Linked DNA regions of Homo sapiens. The protein of the gene in region 4 purifies or fractionates together with the protein of the main gene of each other region. This does not show direct contact. Each region holds a gene or a part of one and is shown on either strand. Other genes may lie near its edges. The genes, in order: PUM2, LUC7L2, GAK and CLASRP.

Evidence for each region.
Region 1: the proteins of CLASRP (region 4) and PUM2 purify together in Homo sapiens (affinity purification with mass spectrometry; 2 studies listed by BioGRID and IntAct, with this or other methods). This does not show direct contact.
Region 2: the proteins of CLASRP (region 4) and LUC7L2 purify together in Homo sapiens (affinity purification with mass spectrometry; 4 studies listed by BioGRID and IntAct, with this or other methods). This does not show direct contact.
Region 3: the proteins of CLASRP (region 4) and GAK purify together in Homo sapiens (affinity purification with mass spectrometry; 2 studies listed by BioGRID and IntAct, with this or other methods). This does not show direct contact.

Annotation. Positions count from the first base shown.
Region 1 is NC_000002.12:20,277,560-20,285,243, forward strand, and holds part of PUM2 (pumilio homolog 2), read right to left. Parts: intron 5,928-7,684; coding exon 5,784-5,927; intron 5,673-5,783; coding exon 5,388-5,672; intron 1,261-5,387; coding exon 1,024-1,260; intron 899-1,023; coding exon of another isoform or gene 852-898; exon of another isoform or gene 743-851; coding exon of another isoform or gene 648-742; exon of another isoform or gene 1-647. UniProt on the Homo sapiens protein: Sequence-specific RNA-binding protein that acts as a post-transcriptional repressor by binding the 3'-UTR of mRNA targets.
Region 2 is NC_000007.14:139,362,527-139,370,210, reverse strand, and holds part of LUC7L2 (putative RNA-binding protein Luc7-like 2), read right to left. Parts: intron 1-7,684. UniProt on the Homo sapiens protein: May bind to RNA via its Arg/Ser-rich domain.
Region 3 is NC_000004.12:929,208-936,830, forward strand, and holds the start of GAK (cyclin-G-associated kinase), read right to left. Parts: upstream 3,110-7,623; 5' UTR 2,981-3,109; coding exon 2,836-2,980; intron 1-2,835. UniProt on the Homo sapiens protein: Associates with cyclin G and CDK5. Seems to act as an auxilin homolog that is involved in the uncoating of clathrin-coated vesicles by Hsc70 in non-neuronal cells. Expression oscillates slightly during the cell cycle, peaking at G1.
Region 4 is NC_000019.10:45,055,535-45,063,218, forward strand, and holds part of CLASRP (CLK4-associating serine/arginine rich protein), read left to right. Parts: intron 1-915; coding exon 916-1,000; intron 1,001-2,215; coding exon 2,216-2,364; intron 2,365-3,733; coding exon 3,734-3,830; intron 3,831-4,854; coding exon 4,855-4,933; intron 4,934-5,019; coding exon 5,020-5,093; intron 5,094-6,619; coding exon 6,620-6,661; intron 6,662-7,684. UniProt on the Homo sapiens protein: Probably functions as an alternative splicing regulator. May regulate the mRNA splicing of genes such as CLK1. May act by regulating members of the CLK kinase family.

The DNA.
Region 1 (7,684 bases), on a different chromosome or scaffold from region 4:
GCAACAGATACCTTTGTTACATGGACATTTATTGTATTAGTAAGTTTTTTTGCTTGTTTTTGTTTTTTTCTTTTAAATAGCTATACCCATGTAATTGGAGGGGGTGGTCAAACATAATCACTAACTTACAGTACATCTGCTTACAGTAGCAACATTACTTTTTAAAACACAAGCTGATTTAAATCTTTCCAATTACATAAAAGCTGGCAATAGAATCCCTCAGTTTCAGCTGAATAACTAGAATTATAAAAATTCAAAATAAAGTTTTAAAAAAATAATTTCTTTGACAAGATAGGGATTCATACACAGCCCCTGATATCCAAAGCCCTTCAAAACGTATTATCTACATGGATAAATACTTCCTGGAGAGGGAAAAAAGGTAATCACCAATTTAATAATTTGGGGGTGGGAACAATTTTAATATACAAATATAAACAAAGTTCTCAATGCTCCAACTTCAGGGGTACAACAAGCCTAAAACATTTTTTTTCTTTAACATATCCAAAAAAGAAGTATATGGCCCAAGCCTATAAGCTTCCTTAAGTGACAAATACACTAAATTCAAATTCACTGAAATAATTATCTGGTAAAATGGCCAGGCATAGAAAGACCAAAGCAAAAACCAGTGTACTAACCTAGTTCAGTAGCTATGTAACTAATGTTTTTCTTATGGTGTGCAAATCTTTTGATAGTGAAATTTCTCTTTCACTATTATGTTTATATAGTTGACTTTTCAGATGCTCTAAAACACACAAATCAAAAGCACAGACAAGAAAAAACACACCATTATATTTCATAAAAAAAACATAAGAAACAATAGGGGGGTCTTTACCTTATTGTACATTAGACCCTCACTTTGAATTTTCAGGAAAGTAGAACTTTTTCAAAAGACTAATATCTAAAAGCAAAAGCAATTTGGCATGTTTTAACCAACATTAAATATTTTACATATATTATAAACACACACACAAACACACATACATGTATACATACAAATAAAAAGGGTTTTGGTTTTTTTTTTACCTAAATGCAAACTGGATGAGGATCCATGTGATGAAAGTGATGGCGGTGGCGTAAGTGAATGTCCTGGAGTTTGGCTTGGCAGAGGCATGCCTATTGGACTTGGAGAGGAGGAAAATCCCAGACTATTGTAAAATGGTTGCCCTATGGGTGCTAGGCTGCTACTAGATCTTTTGTACAAGTCAGAGCTAGTAGATAGAGACTCTCTCCTTGTGGCACTACTACTTGCAGAACTGCCAACTGAAGAAGAAATAAAAAAAACCCTAATTACATACAGTGTTAACTGAATAAAATCTATCCCCAACTCTCGCTGGGCAATAACAGAAGTGATCACAATAATTATTTTTAGAAACATTTTGGAGAAGATAATTACTGTGATAACTATATATACTAACTTATTAATCATAAAAGGGTATAAATGCACCCCAATAAAGAACCAAATACTTAACAGAGCAGTCATATGATTCATTATTTCACACATATTTACCACTGACACATCTGATTACTGTGCTTTAATACCCTGGTATGATTTATAAACCCTGGAATTGCAAGTTGTCTGCATTAGGACATGCTAGAGATTAAATTCCATTAAGTTTAAATTCTGATAGTATCCTAATCTCTGAAACCTGCTTCTTAGACTTTAACTCAATGCCAAGAAAAGATTATATGAATAAATAATTAGTACATTTCCTTCACCATTCATATTTAATTTGTCATCTAGCTGTGTTCAAAACATAGCCCTTTAAGTCCATATTGGCCCGAATATTGATCAGTTGTGAAATACAGTGAGCAGCTAACTCAACAGTATTTTTTACACTACGCATTCTCCCTTGTTCTTTAACTACATTACAAAGTAACTCGACTTTTCTAAAATTAATAGCTCTCACTGTTATCAAACCAAAGACATACTTTCACTTATCCCACAGGACTCTTCTACTCCTAAGATGCTAGTACTACTGCCTCCTGAGCCCCTTACTCAAGGCTGATCAGGTTTTTGTCATTTGATAATACACAATTTCTCTTACTTTACATCCCTTAATACAATGCATACCAAATTTTTACTTAATATCAAATGTAACTATTATCCTTCTAATCCTTTTTCCTTTTATAGTGCAGAAAATAAAGGTCATGTAGGCCCTGGTGAGCTATACATGCTCAGAAGAGCTAATCAAGATCTGGCTGTTAATCAACACCTGTCTGGATAATCAAATTCCACAGCATGCATCTCTAAGGGCTGTCCAAACTCTCAGTTCTCAAGTCTCACTTAAAGCCCATATATTCAAGTACGTTTCCTTCCTATTTCTAAGCACTAGCCTCTTTTAACTGAATAACTTTTACATCTAAGAAAATTTCAAACCACATTTCTGAACCTGCCAAATACATTTTTAAATGACAAGCTCTATATTCGGACCAATATGGCAATGCTTTTCAAGGGATCTAAGTTTCTATTAAATCTTATTTAAGCACAAGTCATATATAAATAGGTCATACAGGGTATAAAGAAAAAAATTAAGGAGAGTACATCATGGGTAGACCAAGGTAAGAGTATAATACAGACGGAAAACTTAATTACGTTGGTTTTGCCAAATTCAAAATTCTATAAAGGGGTAAAAAAACCAGGCTTATGCTACCACATTAGGCAAAAGATTATAATGCTATTCAACCTTTTATACCAGCCAATGCAGTTTCTGAGACTGATCATGTTTTGTTGAAGATTTTACATTTTAAGATATCATAGTAAGAAAATACTAGGTGTCTATATGCATTTTTATTGCAAAAGTGAATTATAAGCACATGTAATAAACAGTTATTCTTGAGTTGGTTTTGGTAAAACTGGCAATGTATGCTACATTAACTATGCTAATTTAAAAGGACACTGTCAAAGTGATTTTTCTAAAATATGGCTACATTTTAAATTCCTATTTATTTCAGAAAACAATTTAACTGACAATGAAAAGACAACAGCTCTAATAAGAGCAGCATTATTCCCCTGACAAATAATCCAAGAAACCAGTTTTGACACATGCAATATTATTTTCCTCCAAAAAGGAAAAGTCAAGCCAAACATTTAAAAATAATTCAGAAATAACCTTAAATATAAAGAAGCTGGCTCTTTAAGTTTTACTATATGTCTAAATTATCTCCAACAGTATGACTATGAGATATGAAACAAAGTGTACCTAAAATATCTAAGAGGGTAGACAGACTGCTAATCATTCATCGACTGTGAAAAAAGGCTAAATTATAAACTTTCAATTGTAACAACACTTTAAAAAATAACAGGTCATAGAAAAGATGATTTAAATTATATGTTACGATGTTTAGGCTTCTTGGCCAACTATATCATAAAATGGGGTATTTAACACTGTTAAACATTAATAATTTCATCATAGAGGTAAGAGAAGGACTGTGTATGTTACTTGTATATGTGTATACAGGCACACAACCATATTATGTTTTAGAGCTCATGTAAGTATGTAATTGCCATAATGTGAAAAGGCAGTGTGCAAACTTGTAAGAGTCCATATATATAGCACTTGAAAAAACTCCCACAAAATGCCCAAGAGGAGAGATACGATGGACTCTTTACTGGCATTCAGGGGTGGCAATCACTAATGCTCTCTAAAGCAAGGTAAAATGAAGCTCTTACAGATTGGAGTCAGAATTAAGTAAGCCATGCTTGTAAATAATGGAGGTGTGAAGGTTAGTTTTGGGGAAACAGGGCATCTGTAGTGGACAAAATGTTCATGTCAATCAATTCCTGAAAGGGGGAAAACAGCCTTAACTAAGAAACAAATGGAAATTTGAAAGAATTGAGTAGGGGCCTAGAAATCTGAACCAGACGATCAGTGACATACTACGTGAGAAAGGAAACATGGGGTTTAATCAATGCTCTCTTTTTTCTGAATTATTTAGGGCCTACAATTTATAATTTAAAAACTATTTCCACAAGTTTGTTTTTTATGTTACTTGTTCTTCCAGTTTTCCTCAGAATATTTAGGATTCTTTGGAGAAAATGTCCCAATTGTGTTAGAAACAAGGAATGAGTCCTATGGGAGTGCGTGAGGTGGACAAAGAGATACACAACTCCAAAAGCAATGAAAAAACTCAAGTACAAAATTGAAAAGATTTAACAATCCCCATGTTCACTGGATTTTCCCTCAGAAATTCTTATGAGCAGTCTTCAGATAATTTTGTGTCAGTCCAATATGACATCCACTTATTGTATTTCATTACAATAAATGAAAAAAGATTCTGCCATCTAAAAGTTTGTGGCTGTTCTAGACCATCCTTCCTGTATATATGAATGATAAAAGTTCAGAAGACACTCCCTTAGAAAACTGGCAAGCATTGTTAATAATGCCTGGCATGTGTTAGTTCTGCCATTTTCCACACCAGAAAAGAATATAATTTGATGTGGTAAGAAAAGAGATCAGAAACAGATATTAAGGACTGTAGCAAGTTATGTTATAGAAACAGAAAATCTCTTGAGGTCCAAATAGTCCTATCCTCATGAAGTAAAAGCTGCCAGCTGCACCGATAGAACTGGGTCAGCTGTTTTTTCCCTAATGTTTCCTGAGTACTGTGGAAACCTCACAGAAAACACCAAGTGTATCAACAAGAAGTCAACGTGGGCCTCTTCTGATTTCACTTAGTTCTTCCTCTACCACAGGATCCAGGAACCAGTTTGAGTGGGTCAATTATTTAGTGAAGCTATTTAAAATTTTGATTTGTTAAGTGTTATATAAAGCTAAGATACATGAATAGATACCCTTTTAAGTGAATTTTTAGTGACAAAGGCTAACTTATTTAATCTAAAAGATAACCATACTGGTAGCTTCTTAGGGGATTCTGTGTAGAACATTTCAGTATTTATACATACACATATGTATTTTTTATATTAGGCCAAATTTAAAAACTGTAATAAACTACCAGCATTTAATAAGAATAAACCATCTAATAAGGACACAAAGATAACTGCTTTAAAATACCAAAAATTTAAGACGGCAAAATATTTGCCTCCACAAACATTATGTAGTGAATGAAGATGAGCTAATAATTAGTGAATAATATATTGACCCAAATAAACCCTACTAAAACAAAAATTACAGTAATCAATTCCTAGAGCCAGGGAAAAAGGAAATGTATTATATATGAGTAAAGAACAGGCTGCCTATAGTGAGTTAAACATTGGTGAGTGTTGAAAAGATTTGCAGGATTTTTTTTTCCTACAAATTAAACCAGTAGTCCAATACTTTATTCCTGTCCTTCCTATCCTACATGCTATTATTGCTTATTTTAATGTTAAACACACTCATATACCTCTTCCACTTAGCAGAGTACACTCATCGTAAAAACAAACTTACCTGATGAACCAAATCCACTGAGGGCTGAGCCTATAGCAGCACCCAAAGAGTTACCACTTCCAAAGCCAAGAGATGTACTTCCAGGTTGACCAGGTCCATGAGAAAATAAAGAACTACTCTGGGAGCTATTAGTCAAAGAACTGCTTCCATAAAATGAATTAGATTGCAGATTAGTGCTTGGCTGCTGTTGCTGCTGCTGTGGTGGCTGAGTGCCAATTGGCCGAAACAGACCATTTGTGCTGCCTGTAAGGCTACTTGCAGTTCCTCCAGCTGCTGCTGCTGCTGCTGTAAAATAAATTTCAGATACTTCTTTAAACCACCCAGAAAATTCTGTATTTTAAAAATGGTATCTCAACACCAGAAAAATATTATCCTAAAAATGTCAGTTACACTTACCAGCTTGTGCTGCTGCTGAACTAATTAAAACAGGTGTTGGAGCCATTAACCGAACTGGAGCTCCAAGGCCAGTCCTTGCTCCAGGGCCAACCACTAAGGCACCAGTCTGATCATAATAGGCAGTTGGAGCTAGTACTTGATAGCCTAAATAAAATAAAGGTTTACTAATGAAAGCACTTATTACAAAAACATGCATATTTGTTTTTCCCTGCATTTGTATTTTTTCAACTAGACAACACAGCTATTTGTACCATTACTATAAAATCCTTAGTTAATATATGCAAAGCAACACATTTGACAAGGTCTTACTAAATATATGAAAAAGTAATAGACTGTCATTAAACATTTTTTCTCTAAATTTTACTCAGGGGCCACAAAATGAAGAGGTATTTTCCTTAATATAGAAACTACAGGCTATGAAGGAAGGGCTGATATTAGAAAAAAAAAATCACCATTTAGCCCTTCGAAGAAGAAGGATTAAAAAAACTGGGAGTAGCGAGGTAGAACACTGTACGAAATGTTTACTGTGCAATTTCATTGAAGTTCAAAATCAAGTGCCTCATTACCAGCATTCCGTTAGATTTTCATTTGTAATCATCTCTTTAAAAACTTAAGCCAAACATTCTATTTGTGAAGATTCTCAAGCTAGAGTTTAATTAAAAATCACACAGGCTTTAGTTTTATTGTAGCCTTAAGCACAAGGTAGGTAATCTTCACAAATAGTGGAGAATAAAGTTAACTTCTTAGCAGCCTTTCTCAATGGAGATTCTCTGTTGAACCAAAAACACAGAAAATGATTTAAGTAAGTATTTTGTTAATTCTCCTAAGGATGGTATATAACAAGCATCACTCTGGAATCACAGGAGAGAAGTTAGCTATATACACTGTGGATACTTCAGAGCAGTAATAAGGCTTTATTCTTTTCTGGAACTCAGTTTAGAAAGGCTGCCTTATAAAGCGACAAAAAACTGAGGCCCAATAACCTTACAACTATCAGCAAAACATGCATTGGCAACTTTTTTTTCCCTTAAAGAGTGCTGTCTTGCTCTGTTGTCTAGGCTGGAGCACAGTGGCATAATCATAGCTCACTGCTGCCTCAAACTCCTGGGCTTACATGATCCTCCCGCCTCAGCATCCTAAGTGGCTGGGACTACAGGTACATGCCACCAGGTCCGGATAATTTATTTTTATTTTCTACAGAAATAGGGCCTCACTATGTTGCCTAGCCTAGTCTTTAACTCCTGGGCCAGCGATCCTCCCGCCTCAGCCTCCCAACTGTGTCTGGTCCTTTAAGAAGTTTTTAAAAACACAGACTATACTGAAATACATTCCAACATCAATTTTTAAGTCTTATTTTGTTAATACTATGCAGAAGTGAGAGTTACAGTAAAATTAGTGATAATGCAGCATGAACATTTTATTGCCTTTAAACACAGTAGGCTAAATTCAGCTCAAATATAATAAACAGTGCTCAGATAAACACTTCACCTGTAAGACACACATGCATAGGTTGTTTTTAGTAAATACAGTAATTCTGATCAAGAATAAGCATTAGCACGCTGCTAATAAAATATCCACATTACTAGTAAATTTCAAACTGTACATGCCAGTCAATAGTCTTAACTGGTATGTGTGGTCTAGTCCTAAATCCAAGGCACACAGAAAACATTCTTGTTCAAAAACATTGTCATTTACTTAACATCTGAATTTGAATTAAAAATAAAAGTAAATCCATTTGGACATTTGGCTATAAACACTCTACTGACAAATCAAACAGCACTTAACTGCTCCTTAACTAAATTTTGCGTATATAAATTCCCAGAGAGGAAATAACCCACAGTCAACTCAACTCTGAAGTCCTGTTCATTTACCTTCCAATCTTTCTCAAATCCATCCATTCT
Region 2 (7,684 bases), on a different chromosome or scaffold from region 4:
ATACACTCAGTTTAACCCACTGTATATTTAAACCATCCAAAGTATAGGGTTCATTTTACAAAAGGACTCATCACCATGTCTTAACATAATAATACAGATGCTTTGAAAACATTTAATATGTCTTGATCTATGTAAAACTTTCCAGGCATATATTTATTACATAAGGAAAGGGAAGAAAGAGTACTATGCCAAAGATGGCAACGGGAAAAAACAATTATGACAGTCTGCCTTCCAAATGTGACATCAAGTCGTTCCTAATAAAACAAAGCAGCTTTCCTTTCCTCCAGAAAATGTAAACACAAGGGTGCTATACAGCTCAGAAAAGCTATCCTTCTTAATCTTCTGGTTCATATGGTCCCATAAGTTTATAATCAGAAATAGGTACCAGTATCACCCCCCACCATAATCCCCATGACAAGCCAAACATTTTTAAAATGTGATGCCCACTGTAGAAGAAATCTCCAGAACAAGTTCATTCTTGCTGGATATGATCAAAGATTAATGTTTTTAAAATGTTAAAAATCTGGCCCACTTGTCTGTGAAAATCCATATCACAAGATTATAAGAATGAAACTGGGGAACAGCCTTGTTAGTAGAAGAAAAACCTTGTAGGATCTTTTGAAGCTAACCAGAATGGTGATGATGAAAATGTGAGAACAGGAATACTAAAGAATCTCCATTCCAAGGCTCTATTCCATGCCCTGCACCTATCTTCTCTCATTATATTAATACAAGCAAAGGGTCTTGGTAGCTGGCAGGGACCAATGCTATCATGTTTTGGGGGGTATGTGCTTTAGGAAATCTATCAGCCTATTCCTCTTCTTAAATTTACAAGAGACATCAGAAAAGCCTGAATAGTTACTTTAACATTAAGTCCTAAAATAGGTTATATAGAATTTATTTTAAGATATATGGCATAAAAAGTTACAGCCTGCTAAATTTTATATTTTGATACTTACTTGCAGAGCTGTAATTCTGACATAGTAACAATTGCACTCTGGATAGCCGGTGCCTTCTATCATCCAGAACTTTCTATATACAAAATTAGAAGTAACGAAAGCTATCTTTGGCTATCAAGCAATAGCTGAAAATAATCAAAGAAAAAGTAACTGGCTGATTTATCTATTAAAAAAGACAAGTTCTCATCAGCTGGTGATAGCTACAGAAGCCAACTAGAGCCTCCCCAAATCCAAAGGAAAAGAAATAAAAAAGAAAAAAAAAGATGAAAATATCAAGGGACAGAGGTGATAGACAACCCAATGATAAAGGAAGAAGTTAAAATGAAAAACAGATCACCATGAAGGAGACGTGAGCCTTAAAACTAAACAACACAGCAGAAATACTGCCTCACAGTGAATATGCAACAAATTTACAAAAAGGGTTGCCTCTGGGGAAAGGACTGAGACGGTGAAGGGGACCACAAAAGACTTTATTTGTAATGCTTTATGCACTTTTTACTTTTTTTTTTTTTTTGAGACGGTGTCTCACTCTGTCGCCCAGGCTGGAGTGCATTGGCACCATGTGGGCTCACAGCAACCTCCGTCTCCTGGGTTCAAACAATTCTCCAACCTCAGCCTCCCGGGTGGCTGGGATTACAGGCACCCACCACCACATCTGGCTAATTTTTATATTTTTAGTAGAGACAGGTTTCACCATGTTGGCCAGGCTGGTCTTGAACTCCTGACCTCAGGTGATCCACCCACCTTGGCCTCCCAAAGTGCTGGGATTACAGGCGTGAGCCACAGTGCCCGGCCTCTTTATCCATTTTTTAAAATTTGACAGAAATATACGAAATAACATTTGTTCAATCATACAGATGCTTGTTTGACCTCTGTACTTTTTAAAACATTTTTTTAAATGCAGACACCTATAATCACTATCACAGAACTTATTACTTAAAAATAAACATTCAAGTGTAATTCTTCATTCCCATTAGATTTTTGGTCAAAAGATGACAGAAGCAAATTATGTCTATAATCTCTAAGAAAAGGAAATAAAGATATAACTAAAGCAACTCTGCAACCTGGGTATCAATCTATTGCTATAAATAATTACTATACCCTAAAGCACATCAACCAATAAATATACAGAACACCATGTGCAGGGAAGCACTCCCTCTAACACAATGGAGTAAATTAAATTGTAACAGGAAGTTTTCAAAATATTTATACATGGTGTCCAGACTCACGTGAATCGACTGCTTAGTCCTAGCAACATGCCCTGCCGCTCTGCTCCCGTCCATAATGCAGGCTCACAGCCACTTTCCCTAGCATTTCTATCAGGCCTCTCTTTGATAAGCAGCTTTTCCCACAGCCAGGTACCTCTTCACATTCCCACTGTGGAACCAGTTGGTGAAATCCTGCAGAAACACTGACCCCCGTGGACCAAAGCACTAACGGAGAGGTGAGAAATTGAGCTAAATGAGGTAATTTCATCCTGGAGGTCTTGATGGACCTCTCTAGGGATCTCCTAGATCTCTCTGTCTCACAGGCTTGTATTTCTGTCCAGTCATTTCTGCTTACAGGCTTAGGTATATATATAGTTCAAACAGCTTTCCTTTCACATGAATACTCCCTGGAACAGTAATTTCCAAAGTATGAGATTTGCACAAAAGATGACTTTAGGTGTTACATGATTTTGCCAACAAGACATTTTAAATACCACTCAGTAAGGAAATTATTAATCACAATTAAGTCAAGAAAAAAAGTTCCCATTTTGCAACAGTACTTGTTTAATAAATTTAACAACTTCTAATTTTTAGCACAGGAACCCTAAGTGACAAGAGTCTAGTTACATAATACACCATTTTGTTTTCATTGTATTTATTTTTATGGTGGTATAAACTTTCATTTTAAAATTAACTTAAAATTTTTAGAAAGTGAGTTGACATAAAGGAAAATATTAAATAAACAGAAAACAGTAAATAATAATAAAGGCAAGGCCAGGCATGGTGGTTCACGCCTGTAATACCAGCACTTTGGGAGGCCAAGGCAGGTAGATCACTTGAGGTCAGGAGTTTGAGACCAGCCTGGCCAACATGGCAAAACCTCATCTCTACTAAAAATACAAAAATTAGCAGGGCATGACAGTGCATGCCTGTCATCTCAGCCACTCGGGAAGCTAGGGTAATCGCCTGAACTCGAGAGGCGGAGGTTGCAGTGAGCCAAGATCAGGCCACTGCATTTCACGCCTGGGAGACAGAGACTCTGTCTCCAAAAAATAAAAAATAAAAATAAATAATAATAAAGGCAATAAGTGTGACAAACATTTGGGAAACACTGATCTAGAAGAGGGTTTCTCAAACTTTTAATGTGTATCAGAATCACCTGGAAGGTTTCTAAAAACATGGATTGCTGGGGCCCATATCCAGAATTTCTGACTCAGTAGGTGGGTCCAAGAATTTATATTTCTAACAATACGACGTGATGCTGAGGTGATGCTGAATTGCTGCTCCAAGGACCACACTTGGTTTAGAATAACTAAACCAGAATGGTGATCAACAAGCTTTTGTTAGAGTCAAATGGTAAATGTTTTCGGTTTGCGGGCCATATGACTCTGTTGCAACCATTCAGCTCTGCTGTCGTAAGCCAAAGCAGCCATAGACATCATGTATATGAATCGGCATGGATGTGTTCCAATAAAACTTTATTTACCAAAAGCAGGAGGCCATAGTGCCAGTCCCTGATCTAAAACATACCTTCAAGTAACTTTAACTATTAAACTATTAAAGTTACTTTAAGAGAAAAGTCTACCATTTAAACTAATACTAGAGCACAGTACAGAACAGAACAGCCAGGTATATTATAGATACTATCCAATAATTATCAGTTAACTCTAAAAGAGAAAACTGGGGTCTGCAGAAATCTAAGGTATTAAGATTAAAAACAAAAACCATTTACCATATTCAGGAGACAAGATTCAGCAAGGGCAGCTGGTTAAATTCCTTTCATGTTGAGTCAAATAAGTCAAACATCAGTTGTACATGGTTCACAACTATACTGGAACATATGGGTCAATACTGAGTGCTTTTTGGAAAGAAGTTTTAAAGATTCTTTTCTATGCTAATAGCAAAATATGACATTTATTCAGCTGAATGGACTTCATGTTACTTTCTGACGGCTTTGACTTCTCAAAGTCCTAAGTTATTCAGTTCAAACAAAAACATGGAGCTGCAGATGATTTCAGAGTTTTCACAAATTAATTTCTCTATATCCTCAATAATCTTGCAAAACTGAACAACTGACCTATTTTGGCCCTGCCTTCCAATATCTATTCTAGCAGCTGCTAGTGCATGAGAACCTAAACAAAAAGGAAACAGAATAGCTTTTCTGCAAGTTTTGAATTCACAAGATTCCCTCTTCACTCCCTCATTCTTTTTCCAGTAAGATGTTCCAACTTCCTTCACCTTCTTATAGTTTCTTAGTAGATTAAGTTATGCCAAACTGCTTGTTTCCTCAAGAACTCTACATACTAACAGCAGTAGGCTTTAAGAATTCAGTCCTTTTCAAGCACCTTTCTGGAATTCCATCTTTGGGGAGTATCTGCCTCATTTAACTAGTCTTGCCCACTTATTGACCTTTAGTTTTAAACCATCTGCCTGTCTTCTCAACCCTCCTGCTTGCTGAACTCACAGCAACTTTAAGCTTCAATGCTTTGTATGAACCACCTGTTACTGAAGAGTACCTGATTCACTAAACCTGACCTTGATCCATGACACCTCATGGCCATTGAATTCCTACTACCCATCTTGAACACGTTGAACACTACCATCTATCCTTATATGACAACATCCAACCTAAACGAAAATAAAAGAATTTACTTGCTCCTTATAGAACTGATGCAGAAATAGACAAAATGATTTTTCTTTGTTTTGCTTATATTTACCTGAAGTAAAAGAATGTCTCAGAAGCATATGCTTACTTGAGGAGAACTAAACAACTGTAGAGAATCCAGGAACGATGCAATGTTATATGAAGTGATACTTTTATTGTTTTCTGGGCTGCTGTGTAGATAGAAATATTATTCAGAGTTCAAAATGCAAAATGAGGAAAACTTTTCTTTTTTCATTGATTCACTATGCAGGTGCTTTCAGTGTTTTGGATATGCCTGAAACTCTGATAAAGTTAAATAGTTAACTGAAACGCAGAGAAACTACTGTTTAATCCTATAAAACTCCTTATATTAAAGAATTTACAAGCTCTAGACTAAGAAATATCCTGTTATTATTTAAAAAATGTCTGCGTATACATTAAAGGCTCCGCCTCCTTCACTTAAAATGAACAATCCAAGTGGAATAAAAGAATGGCTCACAACTGACCAAGAAATGAATATGGTTCATTATGTTAATGAGAAAAAATTAAGAGAAAATGTTTTCAATGTTGATGAAAAGTCAAGGAACACAGATTACAGTAAAGATGATTTTATAAATAAAATCCATTAAAGAACGCACTACTTCAAACTTTGATTCAGTAATTTTGCAGAAAGGCAGAAATGTCATACTATCTTACAGATTACACGGTTATGTACTACTAACCTTACATTAGCAACAAGTAAATGGCTTTCTTAACAGTATTTTCCTGGGTATGAGGATGAGTATCCTTTCAGTTTTATATCCCACAAACTATAACTACTGTACAACTGATCAGCAAAAATATTATGATTAATATGTTAACTGAGGAAGTATATCCTACAATTTAGAAAGATTAACATTTAAAATAGTTAAAATTATTGAAAGTTTTAACTTGCCCGAAACAGTCCCTAACCATAAGGGACAATTAATGATGCTATAAAATTCTATCTAACATTCCTAGTCTACTTGTTGTTTTGGAGGGCAGGCTGCCATTCCTGCCTATTTTAATCTTTCGAAGGTGGTCTCTGCTCCCATTTAAAGGTATAAGCAATTAAGAGATACAGAACCCTCAGAACTACCTTCTATAACTTACCTAATTTCTAAGCTTAAAATGTAATCTAGGCTGGGCATGGTGGATCACCCGAGGTCAGGAGTTCGAGACCATCCTGGCCAACATGGAGAAACCCCATCTCTACTAAAAATACAAAAATTAGCCAGACGTAGTGGCAGCCACCTGTAATCCCAGCTACTCGGGAGGCTGAGGCAGGAGAATCACTCGAACCCAGGAGGTGGAGGTTGTAGCAGTGAGCCGAGATCGTGCCACTGCACTCCAGCCTGGGCAACAGAGACCCTGTCTCAAAAAAAAAAAAAAAAAAAAAAAAAAAGGATGTAATCTAAATCCACACCCTCAATTTTATTTAATTCTTATTGCTTGCATCTTCCCAGACTTTCCTGGGATCAAGACTAGAGACTTATGACCAAACTGTGTTTGTTGGCAAAGGGGCTTTAGCTAAGGAACATCCTTGCAATTAATCCAACTGAGCAAAAATCACAGTCTGTGTGAGGGTACTGGGTTCTTCCAACTGTCACACAGACAATTCTCAAACTGTTTCTTGGATTTTCCTGTGCAACTCCTCCCTGCTTTCAAATAGAATGAATATGTTCAGGGAAAACAAATTATCCCTCTCCCCTCTGCTAACAACTAAAACAGAAAGATATTTATAAAACGTAATGAATCATAAACAAGATAAAATAAACTAGTAATTACTATCTACTTATAGCTCCTTTCTAAAAAAACTTAAAATATATTTATTTTTCAACATTTCTGAGTATAACATAGGAAATTATTTGGTTTCCCATATAACAAATTACAGATTTAACTTGAGGCAAAAAAGGTTAAGTGACTTACCCAAGGTTACAATTAGAGGTACAGCTGGGGCTAGAAACCAGGTCTCCTGAGTCTCAGCCCAGTGCTCTTTTCCTTAGCCCATGATGCCTTATCAGAAAAATCCAAATACAGTCAGACCCCCAGTTATATGGGTATGAGTTACACTGATTCACATATACAAACTTTATATAGTGTGACCAATGTTTCAACTCACGCGGTACCCTGCTTCCATTTATGCAGTATGCCAGGCATCGGCACGATTTTCAGTGGCACACAGGCGGTTGCCACCACCAGGGCCCTAGGCAAAATTGCAAAGAAGGCAGAGTTTGTCTTTGGCCCTCCCACCTCCCTTATGCATTTCTCTCCCACCTCCTGGCAGTCCCCCTGCCCAGCCTCCCGGCACCATCATGCTGCCCTCAGATTGTCTAAAGCCCCCAACTTCCACCACTCACCCAGGAATGTCCTTTCTTGAAGTGCCCAGTGATCCAAAATTACCTCTCCATTTCCCTGCTAACAAAATTCCTACTCCTAAGGATTCCAGTGAAGTTTAGGTAATCTAAATGATTAACTACTTTATGTAATTCAAGTTAAGGTATATTTAACTAACAGACTTAAATCTCCAATGAATTTTAAAAGGAACTAATTAAAAACTGTCAGGAAGGGGAGGGGGAAGAAACCTTGAGGGGGTGAGGAGGTAATGTTTTCCCAAAGCCCCAGGACTCTGTGCCACTTCAGATTCCTTCACAGACAGGACACTAAGAGTGGAGGGGGTCACTGCCACCTTGAACCCCACTTCCAAAAAAGAGAGTCGCTGCTTTATAGTCTCTGGAATTAAAAAAAAAAAAAAAAAAGGACAGAGTTGCCTTAAATACCCTCCTACCTACCTTTTCCATCTCTCTCCCACCTCCTGGATACCCATTTCCACCTCTTAGTGCCAAAGACACCCA
Region 3 (7,623 bases), on a different chromosome or scaffold from region 4:
CCAAGGCTCCTGAGCGGGCCCAGCCACTCAGCTAACACTGCGCATGGCACACAAGGGCTGCGGGCTGGCTCAAATTACATACAACACCCAACCAAACGCACGAGGCGGGTTACGCTTAAACCATACGACGGCTGTGCGGCATCGTTTTCTTTTCTGCCTCAATTTATCTCACTAGCAGTAACCCCGAGTTCAAGTCAGCCACACAGGGAAGGTGGATTTCCCTGCAGTCAGGGCACCACAGGCTCCACTTCAGAAGCAACGGCACGCAGAACCCAAAACAAAGAACACACAGCATACACCTGCCCTGGGCATCTCTGACATGGTTGGTGCTCCTGATAATCTGCCTTTTAAAAAAGTGAAGACTAGCTAGGTGCAGCAGCACATGCCTGTAAGCCCAGCTACTCGGGAGGCCGAGGCAGGAAGATCCAGAGCCCAGTTCAAATCCATCCTGAGTAACAGCAAGACCTCGTCTCTTAAATTAAAAAAAAAAAAAGGAAGATGACAGAACAAATTTGAAGAAATTAGAAAGCTATCTGGTTCCACAGTTCTACCTAAAAACCCATTCACACCACAAGTCCAAATTCCTAAAAGCTATGAAAACCATTTTTTCCTAACTCACTTGACAGCAAATCCTGGTCTATCATAATAACCTCATTTGGGATAAAACCTGACATGAACTGATATGGGGTTAATTACAGACTTTAATTATCCCACAGTGAGAATATTTATTCATTTAATTACAGAAATATTAATGTATTCAATTACAGAATACTTTCCCAAGTCTTCTGGGAGTATCCCACGATATACAGGTTATATGCTGCAATGACCATTCTGAAACCTGAAAAATTCTGGAAGTGTAAACATCTGTACTCAAGGGTTCAGATTACCAGCCATCACCATGTTTACACAAGACAGCCTAAACTCCCATAGCCTATGTTCTAAGGTTGCTGTTCAGACAAAACTTAATTAAGTATGTTTATATAAAATACTTAATTCAGCTTTCACACTCTGTTTCAGTTCAAAGAGGCTTCAAAGTACTTAGGAGGCTGCAGGCCACCTATTAAGTTTACAAGGAGGAAATCTACAGCTCCTAATTGCATTGGTTATTTTTATCTCCTGACTTGCCTAGATAGCAAAGGGAAACAAGTTCTTTTGCACAACCTCAGCAGCTGCCCACATTTCCTTGTTCTTCTTCCTGGGTGCTAAGTGACCCACAAGCTTCTTTCTTTATACGAATCTTCCTCTCCGGGCCCCAGTGAGGGTGCATTCTCCATCCCTCCCACCAAGATCCGTGCCATCTTCTGCTTGGCCCCTTCCCAAAGCTCACACTGTCTGTACCACCCCTAAGGATCTGTCCCTGTGCTGCCTCTGTCTCTCCACCCCTTGAGCACAAGTCTGAAGTTCCAGAAAGCAAGTCCTGTCCACAATAAACTTCTTAAAGAATGAAGATAACCACCTAGTATTTTCAGAATAAATGATTTGATCTGAGAGAAATCTTCCAACTGATGTGAAAGAATATCACACTTCAGCCCCCACTTCTGAAAGAAGAGCTTAGACTTTCTGACCAAATCATACCCAAAATCTGTTTGGTTTTGACCACAATGGAGACAAAGTGTGTGATAATGCTACAGTCAAAATGTCTCCGCAGGCCTTTTGTGATAATCAGAATTCTGGGATAGTCTCCTGTCTGGTCACAGAGCAGGCACCTGGACAGGCTAACCCTCCAGCCCTGAGAGGTACCAGGGAGCTGGTGAGGGTGAGGGCTTTTGTGTCGCTTCACTCCCTCTCCCTGTGCCAATACAGCAGAATAGAGTTACGCTTCCGCACCCAAGTCAACTGTGTTTAGCCCATAAACTTCACAGCCAGTGAAATATGACACACCTCCAGGCACCACTGGACAAAAAATGTAAGGAAAATCCACAAGAGAGAATGGGACCCACTGGCACTGGTGATCGATTCCGTGTGAACGGAGAGGACATCCAGGGAGCTAGAAATAGCATGCAGAGACAAAACTGACTCAAGACTGACTCAAGAGGACTTAAGCCGAGTGACCTGTCCACTCTGCAAGTTCTATATAGGTCACAACCACTGGCTCTGCTTCCTGTACTACACACGGAATCACACGAGTAGATGTTCACCGGGAAGAGAAACACTGAGGTGTTGAAAGACGAAGGGGGATCACGAGACACAGCCCAGTCTACCCTCGGCCAACCCCCCCACCCCCCAGGCTACAACCGCAACTACCTGCAACACGTGTGCACCCACCAACTCTCAAGTTCCCTGGACTGTAGAAGAACCAGCCCTAACCTCCAAAGTCCAGTCCTGTCCCTGCCTGCTCAATAACCCCAGATGTCCGGCAAAAGGCCAAGGCTTAAACCCACCTCCTGCACCGCTCACCTCCTGACTCCAGCTGTCGGCCTTCTAGGCACCGTCCCTCAGTCTCCGCTGTGGGTCCCCACCCAAGCTCCCTGCCTGCCACCATCCCCCACCTCACCGTAACATCTTCCCCCACCCACCCTGAGGGGGTTCCCCAAGCCCCAGGCCTTGCTCCGACTTGACCCTACTCTTATGACAAGAAAGTACCCCGACCCGGTCCCAGCCTCGCCCTCCGCAATCACCGCCAGCAGGCACTCACCTACGCCCGCGCTATGACCTTCGCCTGGCCCTGACCCACGCCCTCGGCAGAGACCCTCCCCTGGCCGACCCTGACCCACGATCCCGCTGGGACCCTCCCCAGCCCTAACCCACGCCCTTCCACTCCGGGCTGACGCTGCCCCCAGCGTCCCGGAGACAACACTCCGCGGCCGCACCCGCGCTGCCGACCCGGGGCCTCACCTTCGGCCAGGACCCGCCGCACCCGCAGCCGCAGCTCGCCCAGTTCCACCGTCTGCCCCACGAAGTCACTCTGGTCGCGGCCGGAAGCACCGCCCAGGGAGCCTGGACCCGCCAAGAAGTCGAGCGCCGACTGCAGCAGCGACATGGCGGTGGCTGCGCCGCACCCCGCGGCAGCCGGAGTGGTCGGGCTCGGGCTCCCGCTCCCTCGCCGTCCGGGTCAGCTCAGCAACCGCCGGCCCGGAGGTGCACCATCTTCCGCCTCGACGCCGTGACGTAGGCGCCCGTGAGGACGCGTCGCGTCAGGCGGCGACCCGGCCTAGCCCCGTCCCCTCCGCCGCGGCCTCACTTCCTGGCTGCGCGCGCAGGCGCGGAGGTCTGACGGAGACAGCGCGTGCGCGGCGTCGCCGGGCTTGCGATGAACTTCCGGCTGTCAAGCTCCCGGCCGGGCTGACTCAAGCGGAGGCGCGCGGAACAGTCGCCGAGGCGATTCCCGCCCAGGTAGTTCAGCGCCCCAGTCCAGCTCCCGGTACCGTTCCCCACATGGTCTGTTTTGTGGGAGGCTCCTTCTCAGGTGTCTCCGGTTTAAGCGCTTCGCCATCCTCTGGGTGGAGTCAGCCTCCCGTTTGCTGTTAGCGCCGCGTTTGCGAATGGGTTCGCGAATTTTTCTCTCAGTTGGCTAAGGAGCAAGGAGTTAGCGTGCGTTAAGCTTTCAGTAAATACTTGGTTTTCGTCTCATGGAGGTCGGAGTTTCCTGTGACGCTTAGTGAGTAAGGTTGGCAGCCCCCTCCCAGCAGCCAGGCAGGCAGTTTGCAGGGGAAACGCTGCTGCATTGCTCTGTCTTCCGAGGAGAGGGCCAGGGTCTGGCCTGGGGCAGTGACCAGTAGTGGGAGCCGTGGGCTAGAAAAACCTTCGTCCTGGGCAACCACAACACTGCAGAGACTGCCCTGTGACCCTCAAGGTTCGTTCTCACCCTGACATTTTCCAAGGCAAAAGCAAATCCTCATGAACCACTTGGAAGGGTTCGTAATGCCCAACTATTTGGAGATGAAATGGTGACTTTCCTTATAGGATAATAAGGAAATGGCTCACAGACAATGCATTTTTAGTTTTTGGCCCACACAGTATTTGGGGGTTGGGAGTGGGTAGCAGGAGGTGAATTAGTTGCTATCATTTAAAGACTGATGCCAGGCGCGGTGGCTTACACCTGTAATCCCAGTGCTTTGGGAGGCCGAGGCAGGCGGATCACCTGAGGTCAGGAGTTCCAGACCAGCCTGGTCAACATGGTGAAACCCCGTCTCTACTAAAAATACAAAAATTAGCCGAGCGTGGTGGCGGGTGCCTGTAATCCCAGCTACTCGGGAGGCTGAGGCAGGAGAATCGCTTGAACCCGGGAGGCGGGCGCCACTGTACCCTAGCCTGAGACTCCGCCTCAAAAAATAAATAATAATAATAATAATAATTGAAAGGCCTAAATGTTAAAAACCTAGTTTTCCAGCTTCTGTGGAAAAATCAAACCTGTCAATATTGGACCCAAAATGATGTGTGTTACCAATTACCTAGAGTGGTCCCTTGAGGTAAGACACAGTCATTTGCCTGACCAGATGGGCTCATGTATGTTACCTGCCTGGTTCCTATAGTCATTTAAGGTTGCAACCCCTTCAACAGAGTTATTTGTTCTCCAACTCAAAAATGGATTCTAAAGCTCACATCAGCCTCTTAGCCGTCCCAGAAGCTAACATCTGTTATCTTTATCATTAAAAGATAATAGCCTCAGCTCGTTGGAACACTTATCTATGTTATGGAATGAAGTATTGCATGAAGCCAAATGACATCTTTAAAAATATATATAACAAAAATAACAGTAGCAATAGCTTAGTTTAGGCACTGATTTATTGCTTACAACACCCTTTTCTGTAATAGTTCATTGTAGTGAAAACATCTTTGTGAAGAAAGCACAGTATAATTAACCCCCTTTATTTTGGGATGAGAAAATATGCTCAACAATGCCATTATTCGGCCAGGGCCAACAAGTGATACAACTGCAATTCAACGCAAGTCATGGCTTTTCCAGCCAGTGCGTTTGTCTGGTCGACTGTGGAATAGAAGGATAGAGAGCTCAGGAAAGAATCCCTGCTAGAGACAGATATCTGGGCATCCTCAGCATAGAGGTGGCAGTTGGCTCTAGGAGCTGAAGAGAGGACCAACAGAGATGGTGTACTAGACATAAAGAGGTTAGAATCTTCAGAGAATAGACAGTTTGTGGAGAAAGAGCAGTCAGTGAAGGAGGAAGAAAACCAAGAGAGTGTCGTAACAGAGCCAAGGAACGAGGATGTTCGGGGCAGAGAGTGCAGCTAAGAGTGTCGAATGCCACTTAAAAGTCAAGTAGAAAAAGAAATGGAAGATATGTGTTGGATTTATTCACAAGGGATCATTGGTGACCTCACCAAGAATAGCTTCATTGGAGTAATGAGGTGGAAGCTACATATTACCGTAGAGGGATGAAGAGATGATGAGGTAGAGATGGCAAGTGGAGATAACTCAAAATGTTTGTCTGTGGAAGAGAATATGAACAACTTCAGGCCAACAAATTCGGCACCCTTAGCTCCAGGGAGCTACAAGGGTGATGTAGTATTGAGATGTTTTAAGATGAGAGATTCTTGAGCAGCCTAAAGCGGATGGAAGGGAGAGAAGGTTTGCTGGTACAGAAAAAAGAGGAATAATAAGATAATTCTATCTTAATGAGATATCTTCTATCTCTTAGAACATAGGAGGGGAATGACATCAAGAGCATAGGTAGAGATATTTGCTTTGGACATAGGAAAAACACTCAGGAAGAAAAATGGGCTGCAGTTGTAGGTGACCTTATGTATTTATTGGAATGAAGGTGAAGGAATTCTCTAATGACTTCTGTTTTCATTGTGAATGAGGAAAGAAAAACATCAACTGAAAGTGAGAGGGGAAGTAGGAAACCCAAGATTTAAGCAGTGTCAAAAAGATCTAAAATAGCTATTATGAGAAACCTAGCAAATAACTCACTGGAAAGCATGAGAGCGTTTAAGCACTCATCTGGAGGCCATGAACTTATACTGGCATGACCTGGGATCAGCTGGACATTTCTAAACCTTGTAATCACTTTGGAAACCAGAGTCAGACTACTTATCTTACGAATATTTCTGGAGCACCTTTATTTATTGGCATTGAAGTAGATGCTATAGTAACACCATCTTAACCCAAATATCTATCTCCATATCTCATCTGAACTCTCAGATGTTTGTTCTTAGATACTGCTACATGTATAAACATGTATATATCCAAAACTGAAGTTATAGTCTTAATCCCTATAACTGATTTCCTAAATTTCATAGCAAAGAGTATTGCAAGAGATTAAGAGGATCATTTTGTAATGAAGAAGGGGTGAATTCATCGAAAAGACTTGATAATCCTAAACATTTATGCACCTAATAACAAAGCTCTAAAATACACAAAGCATAAACTAATAGCTGCAAGGAGAGAGAAAAATCACAATTGTAGTTGGAGAATATTCTTTCTCAATAAACGATAGGATAGATACCCAGAAAATCACTGAGGATATAGGCGACTTGAACATGACTGTCAGCCAACTTGACCTAATGAATGTTTATGGAACACTCCCCACAATAACAGCAGAATACACAATTTTTCAAGTGCATTAAAACATTAAGCCTGATCATATTCTGTTCTATTAAACAAGTATGTTATCTGACCAGAATGATATTGAATATTAAAGTAGAAATCAGTAACAGATTGGAAAATCCTTTCAATATTTGGAAACTGAATAACTCACTTTTGTTTTTTGTATATTTTTTCAACTCACTTTTAAATAACTCATGGGTCAAAGAAGAAATCAAAAAGGAAATTAGAAAGTATTTTGAACAGAATGAAAATGAAAATGCAGCATTTAAAACTGGTGGGATGCAGCTAAAACAGTATTAAATGTTAAGTCTCAAATCAGTGACCTCAGCAATCACCTTATGAAACTAGAAAAGTTGGCTGGGCACGGTAGCTCACTTTGGCAGGCTGAGGTGGGCAGATCACTTGAGGTCGGAAGTTTAAGACCACCCTGGCCAACATGGTGAAACCCCATCTCTACTAAAAATACAAAAATTAGCTGGGTGTAGCAGTGCATGCCTGTGCACGCCTGTAGTTCCGGCTACTTGGGAGCCTGAGGCAAGAGAATTGCTTGAACCCGGGAGGTGGAGATTGCAGTGAGCTGAGACTCTGTCACAAAAAAAAAAAAAAGGAAACTAGAAAAGTAAGAGGAAATGAAACCCAAAGTGAATATAAGAAGGCAGATAATAAGTATCAGAGTGGAATTCAAAAAAATAGATAACAAAAGCAATAGAGAAAATCAGGGAAACCAAAAGCTGATTCTTTGAGATTAATAAAATTGAAAAATCTCTGGCCAGATTGAACAAGAAAAAGGCAAGACACAAATTACCAATATCAGGAATGAGAAATGACATCACTACGGAAAGGATAATCGGGGACTATTATTAAGGACTTTAGGCCAACAAATTCAGCAGCTTACACTAAACGAACAAATTCCTGGAAAGCACAAACCACTTAAGCTCATTTAAGAAGAAATTGTGTTGGGCCCGGCGCGGTGGCTCACGCCTGTAATCCCAGCACTTTGGGAGGCCAAGGCAGGTGGATCACAAGGTCAGGAGATCAAGACCATCCTGGCCAACATGGTGAAACCCCATCTCTACTAAAAAAGATACAAAAATTAGCTGCGCATGGTGGCATGTG
Region 4 (7,684 bases):
GATAGAAAAGCTGAGGCCAGCCGGGCACGGTGGCTCATGCATATAATCTCAGCACTTTGGGAGGTTGAGGCGGTGGATCACCTGAGGTCGGGAGTTCGAGACCAGCCTGACCAATATGGAGAAACCCTGTCTGTACTAAAAGTACAAAATTAGCCAGGCACGGTGGCGCCTGCCTGTAATCCCAGCTACTGGGGAGGCTGAGGCAGGAGAATCGCTTGAACCTGGGAGGCGGAGGTTGCGGTGAGCCAAGATCGCGCCATTGCACTCCAGCCTGTGCAACAAGAGTGAAACTCTGTCTTAAAAAAATAAGAAAAGAAAAACTGAGGCCTAGGGAGGGAAGGAAGGAAGGGGACTTACAACCCACTGTCCCACAGCGAGTCAGGGACACGTGTCTCACTGCAGGGAAGATCAGGAAGGCTCTGGTACATTGTTGAGTCCCCCAGGCTGGGTGTTGGGGGTGCAGGAGAGCCCAGGTCATCCCAGCCCACACCTAACTTAAAATGAGCCACAGAGAGGCATGCAGTGGAGTGACCTGTGCAGTCAGAATGGCGTGTGGCACTCAGGAGCAGGTTATGGTTCTGAAGGGTCCAGCCAGAGGCCTCCAGAAACAGTGAGAATGGTGGTAGAGTGCCCAAGTACCAGGCCAGGCACTCACTCTGCCCGTGGTCCCATTTTACGGAAAAGGAAACTGAGGCACAGATGTGTTAAGTCCCTTGACCAAGGTCGTGTGTCCAAGGCTCTGCTGCAGTTGCTTGTGTCCCACCAGACATAGTTTGATTATCTGGAAGTGGTGACTGCCCCCCAAGGTGCACTGGGGTTGCACCTGTCTTCCTGCCCCACCGCACCCTTGTGTTCCCCCACTGAATTCCTAGTGTCCCCAACCCACTCTGACCTGGGGTCTCTTGTTTGCTGCAGTCTCAGAGGAGCAGTGCCTGTACCAGATCTACATTGATGAGTTGTACGGAGGCCTCCAGAGACCCAGCGAAGATGAGAAGAAGAAGTGAGTCGGGGTCTGGGGTGCAGGGGGTTGAGGAGGCAGGAGGGCTGGGAGCCCCAGCCAGGCATGGCCTCTTCCATCCTGTCCACCAGGGTCTCCCCGAAACCAAGGATGGTGTTCAGCACACAGTCAGTGCTCAATTAATAACTGTGTAGAGGAAGAAGCCCTGTCAGGGGGCCCCGGCTTGCCGAGGGCTCTGCGTTACATTTTCAGCTTGGGAAGTGGTGGGAGGTGCAGGCCCTGTGGTGAGACAGCCCTGGGTTTGAGTCCTGGCTGTGAGGCCCTGAGTGGGAATTGTCTGAGCCTTGCTGTGCTTCCCTGTAAAATGGGGCTGGCAGGAGGCCCTACTGCCTGGAGTTGGGAGGCATGCAGGAGATGGGGCTTGTGAAGTACCTATTCCAGCACCTGCCATGTAGTGAGCTTGCAGTCAGCCCTAGCTGATGTCACTCTGGAGAGAGGCTTCTTAAAGCCGCGTCCCTCAAGGAGTAGCTGGGGAGACCCGGGCCTTATCCTGGAGCAGCTGCCTCTGAGGAGCAGTGGCCGAGCAGTCTCACTTCTCTCTTCTCCACCTCAGTCTGATGAGTGCAGGCCTCCCGCCCTCACACACGCTATTCCCTCTGCAGGGCTTAGCTCTCCTCCAGGCCAGCTGCTGTTGCCCTGGTGCACGGTAGCCTGGAGCCCTGGCTCGGGGCTGGGCAGCTCCCTCAGTGACACCTTCCCTCCTGCTACCCCTGACTGCTTGCCGCCTTCCTCCACTGGGAGGGGTCCCATGGGACTGTACTGGGAGCTTCTTGGAGACTTCAGCCCTCGTCCACGGCCCCAGCCTCAGGATCCTGCTCAGGCCCTGCTCTGTTCAGGGCAAAGCTGGGGCACCTGGCTGCTCAGGAGGACTCTGGGCTGTGCCCTTGTGGGACTCATGGTCTAGGCGGGAGACAGACCTTCCCCAACAGAGATGACCCAACAAAGGCAGGGCTGGGGAGCTCAGGACAGTGCTGACCCACCCTAGGGTACCAGTCAAGGACTTCTTGGCAGGTGGGGCCCTAGAGCTCAGATGTGGAGGAAGAGGGAGGAGCTGGGTGTGGGCAGGAGCAGAGGGTCCTAGGCTGAGGGAGAGCCTGAGGGGAGGGGGCCGTGGCACTCGAGACTGGTGTGTGGGGCTAGCCTGGGGCCCTCATCTCCACTGGGCACGGCCCTGGCTTACCAGCTCCCCTTTCTCAGGCTGGCAGAGAAGAAGGCTTCCATCGGTTATACCTACGAGGACAGCACGGTGGCCGAGGTAGAGAAGGCGGCAGAAAAGCCAGAGGAGGAGGAGTCAGCGGCCGAGGAGGAGAGCAACTCGGACGAAGATGAGGTCATCCCCGACATCGGTGGGGTCCCCTCTCTGCCCTCCCCACCTGCAGTCCCTGGGCATCGTTTCTGTGTCTCGTCCCTCACCCTCTGTGGGGCACCCCGTGCTTACGAACCGTGTCTCTCTCCCTACCCCGCCCCAGGGCACACCAGCCTCCTGCTGCCCCTGTCTCACTCCTGTCCTCCTCCGTTCCGGCCTTCCTCTGCCTCACTCATCTCTCATTTCTAGGGTGCTATTTCTATGATCTTTTCCCCTCCTAGGTGTTGGCTCCATTCTCCTCCACTTGGGCCGGCCTCTCTCTGCCTTTGCCCCTCTCTCCTGCTCTCTTCCCTCCTCTGGAAAACAAGTGTTCATCCTCTTACAGAGTCAGCCCCCATCCGCCAGGCATCTGTTCACCCTCCTCTCTGCCATTCACCTCCCCTCTGGATTCCCACTGATCAAACCACCCCCAAGTCTCTCTGTTTTTCTCATCCTGGTTCTTACTCCAGCAACTGGCTCTTTTTATTTATTTATTTATTTATTTTTGAGATGGAGTCTTGCTCTGTTACCGGGCTGGAGTGCAGTGGCATGATCTTGGCTCACTGCAACCTCCACCTCCTGGGTTCAAGTGATTCTCCTGCCTCAGCTTCCCAAGTAGCTGAGACTAAAGGCACACGCCACCACGCCCAGCTAATTTTTGTACTTTTAGTAGAGACGGGGGTTTCACCATATTGGTCAGGCTGGTCTTGAACTCCTGACCTCGTGATCCACTTGCCTCGGCCTCCCAAAGTGCTGGGATTACAGACGTGAGCCACCGCGCTCAGCCCAGTAGCTGGCTCTTTATTCACACTCTGTGGAGCCACACATTGACCTCCGCCCAGCCCTCCTTCCTCTGGCTTATCACACGCCCTGCTTCCAAACACCTGTGACCCACACCCTGCCTGCCACCCACCGTGATCTCCAGCCGCCATCTTTCCGCCCCTGTTCAGTCCTCCCTCTCACGTCAACCCCACCACACGCCTCACTCATCCATTCCTCCCTCCCTCCATCCACCCATCCCTCCTTCCTTCCTTGCCTCCATTCCATTCATCCATCCATCCATCCCTGCATCCCTTCATCCATCCCTGCACCCATCCGTCCATCTCTCCCTTCTCTTTCCCTCCCTCCGTTCATCTGCCCCTTCAAGCCCTGTCCCCGAGCTGCCTCTGTCCACTGTGTGTTGTGCTCACCTCTGGCAAGCCCAGTGCCAGCCTAGGGCATGCCAAGATGAGCCAGACTTGATGCCATCCCTTCCTGAAGAATCCCTCAGTCTGGCGGGCGCCCCATCATCCCCGCCTCCTGGAGCACTGCCCCTTCTCCCCTGTCCTCTCGCTCGGCCGTGGCTCCTGACAGCCTTTCTCTTGGTGCAGACGTGGAGGTGGACGTGGATGAATTGAACCAGGAGCAGGTGGCAGATCTCAACAAACAGGCCACGACTTATGGCATGGCCGACGGTGACTTCGTCAGGTGAGGCCTGCCTGCTGACACCCCTACCCATTCTGTGGGCCCCACCCTGGCATCTCACTATTACTCCCGGTATTGACAGCCATCCTGTTTGTGAGCATTTGTGTGCCTGGCCCTGGGCCCAGGACTTTACACATGCAGGTCCCTGAGCCTATGGTGGTCGTGGCCCCACTTCATCTGTGCAGAAACAGGCTGCACCCAAGTCACCCAGCCTGCCCTACTTAGTGCGACCTGGGGCGAATCTGACTCTTCGAAGCTCTGGGGATTCCTAGGCTGGGGGACAGCGCCCTCTAGTGGAGAGGCTTCATTCCCTGGTTATTTATCCTGGCAGTTGCTGGTTGTACCTCTACCCTGAGCCACACCCCCTGCTGAGCTCACAAGACCACACAGAATGGTCCCAGCTCACTGGGCAGTGAACCAGAAACGGAGCCTGAGCATGGCACCCTCTGCCCAGAGCCCTTTGTGGCTCCCACCTCCCTCAGGAACATCCAGTGTCCTCACCATGGCCGAAAGGTCTTACCCATCTGGTCCTCTCAACCGCCACCATCCCCCGCTGCCCAGCCTGCACAGTCTCCTTGCTCCTCAAGTGCAGAGGCCTGGGCCAGCCCCTGGGCCACTCTGTCTGCTGTTCGCTTTGGACGTCTGCAGCTTGCTCCCCCAGGTTTTTCTCTAGATACCCTGTTTTGTGTGGCTTCCCTGAGCTCCCTCTTGAAAACTGCAGCTTCCTCTGCCTTTGCTCTACCATCTAATGGACCACACATTTTATTCCCTTGCTCATTATCTTCTCCCCTAGAATGTAAGCCCGTGCAGGTGAGGATTTCTGTTTTTTTTTTTCAGTGCTCAGTTCTTGATACCTAAGATAGCACCTGGCACACAGAGGGTGCTTGATAAGTGGCATTGAATGAAAGATACCTCAGGCTGGCGTGGGGTGACTCAGGTCCCTCACTTTCTCTGATGACTCAGTCTGTGTCCTCCTTACCCTGTGGCCTGCCCCATCCTCCACCCTAATTCTCACCCACCTCTATAGGATGCTCCGGAAAGACAAGGAGGAGGCAGAGGCCATCAAGCATGCCAAGGCTCTTGAGGAGGAGAAGGCCATGTACTCGGTGAGGTCTGGGCTGGAGTGGAAGGGGACAGGGGTGTGTCACAGGGAGGGCACCCCCTCACCAACCTGGCACCCACCCTACTCCAGGGACGCCGCTCTCGACGCCAGCGGAGAGAGTTTCGGGAGAAGCGGCTGAGGGGTCGCAAGATCAGCCCACCCAGGTAGGGCTTCTCCCTGAACCCCCACCCTGCTGGCATCTGGGGGAGGAGAGCAGGGGCTTAGGGCCTGAGAAAGCTCTTTGGAGGCAGGCATTTGACTTGAGAAAGGAGTCTTTCTAGTGGGGCGATGCATGGCCATCGTGAAGGTTTAGAGGTAGGAACGGCCTTGAGGGCCATGTGGACTCCTTTCCTTGCCAGCCCCTCCCCTCACCCTACTGGACTGGGGGCCCTTGCCAGACTCCCAGGAGCCCATGCACAGGCGGCATAAGGCTCTCACCAAGGCGGCAGAGAGGGCACAGGCTTTGCCCTGGACTCTCACCCAGTTCTGCTGCTTGGCTTCTTCCTGTGTCGGAGTTTGGACAAGTGACTTCCCGAACTCTCTGAGCTTCAATTTTTTCCTTTGGAAAACAAGGCATTATCACCTACCTGGAGAGAGGGCTGGGCAGTCCCCACAGGGAGGTCTTGGGACAGGTTTGGATGAGGCAGGCTGGCTTGGAGAGGAAAGCCCAGCCTGGGTCAGGAGGCCTTGAGGAGAGGCCCTGTGCAAACCCATGCCTCTTTTTGCCACATCTCTTAAAGGAGAGTGACTGAGAGTTCCTGTAAGGCTTAAACAACTTGTAGGTTCAGCGGTTGGTATCGGAAACATTCCTTAAAGAATAGCACCAATCGTCATTGCTGTCAGCGGTGGCACAGAGGCACACAGAGGGTAGTGCAGGAACGCCCAGGCTGGGTGGCCATAGGGCCTGGGTTTGGATCCCAGTTTCCTCCTTTATGAGCTACGTAATGCTGGACAAGTGACTTCACCTCTCTGGGCCTCAGTTTCCTCAGCTGTGATAGTCTCTCTTTTTTTTTTCTTCCCCCAGAGACAGGGTCTTATTCTGTCACCCAGGCTGGAGTGCAGTGGTGTAATCACGACTCACTGCAGCCTCAAATTCCTAGGCTTAGGCGATCCTCCTACCTCAGTCTCCTTAGTAGCTGAGATTACTGGTATGCGTCACCACGCCCAGCTAATTAAAATAAAAAATACTTAGTAGAGATGGGGTTTTGCGGTGTTGCCCAGGCTGGTCTCAAACTCCTGGGTTCAAGTGATCCTCCCACCTCAGCCTCCCAGAGTGCTGGGATTACAGGCGTGAGCCACCGCACCCAGCCTATTTTAATCTTATCATCATCATCATCATCATCATCATTAGTAAGCCCGGACCCAGTGAGAGCCAGAGACAAGGATTGGGAGGAGGGATGCTTTCATTCTAGGGTCAGGAGGCCAAGCAGAACCAGAGCTGCTGAAGTCCAAGTTCCTCAGAGTCATGATGGGTCTAGGACATTGTAGGGTGGGGCTTAAGTTCATGCTTTGGACAGATCTGAGGTGGGGGTGGGTGGAGGAATTAAGGGGAGGCCCCCAACCTGGTCAGCAGCCCCCTCACTGTGCCAGGTACCTAGCTTTGGGTCCTCAGGTTGGCGGGCTTATCCCAAATTCATGACTGCTGAGATCTTAAGCCCTAATTTGTCCCACCCCATTCTTTTCTCTGTAGCTATGCCCGCCGAGACAGCCCCACCTATGACCCCTATAAGCGGTAAGTTGCTCTGGAGGACCAGGGAATAGCAGACAGGGAGCCTCCTGATGGGGACAGGGGTGCTGAGGAGGGGATGGGAGGTTCACCCTGCTAGGCCACCCCAAGATCACAGACTGCATGATATGTTCTGGGTCTGAATCATTTTTGTGTTTTCCAGATCACTGTCTTGTTTTCCCAGTTTTAAATAAAATTTTTTTTTTGAGACGGAGTCTCGCTATGTCGCCCAGGCTGGAGTGCAGTGGCACGATCTTGGCTCACTACAAGCTCCGCCTCCCAGGTTCACGCCATTCTCCTGCCTCAGCCTCCTGAGTAGCTGGGACTACAGGTGCCCGCCACCAGGCCTGGCTAATTTTTTGTATTTTTAGTAGAGTTTAGTAGGGTTTCACCGTGTTAGCCAGGATGGTCTCAATCTCCTGACCTCGTGATCCACCCACCTCAGCCTCCCAAAGTGCTGGGATTACAGGCGTGAGCCACCACGCCCGGCCAATAAAATTTTCTTTATCTTTGAAGCTTCTTTATTTTATTTTTCTGATTTAAATACAGTGCAGCCTTGTGGTAAAAATGACCAAATATGGCAAAACAGTGTGACTGAGAAATCAAGTCACTTTAATCTCAATTTCCAGAAGTGGCCAGTGGGAAATAACGGGCACTCAGTAGCACCGCTGGGCACAGGTCGTTGTCTCGTGGATGAAAGAGTGGTTGGAGAAGGGATTTTGTGAGGGACCAAGCTCAGTCTGATCCCAGTCCCCCTCATCCAAGCTCCATAGCTCTCTGAAGCCCAGTTCCCTCTTCGGAATGGGGGTGGGAATGGGATCTTCCTCATGGGGCTGTGGGTCGAGGTTAGATGAGATAAGGTGTTGAATGGCTTCTGGGGAAATAAAAGGTGTAGGTTAGTGCTCCATACATGGGAGTGTCAGGAATATCAGATACTTTCTTTTTATTTTTAAAATTTTATATATTAAAAAACACGTTTGTTTTTTTTTTCTTTAAAATATTGAGATGGGGCTCACCATGTTGACCAGG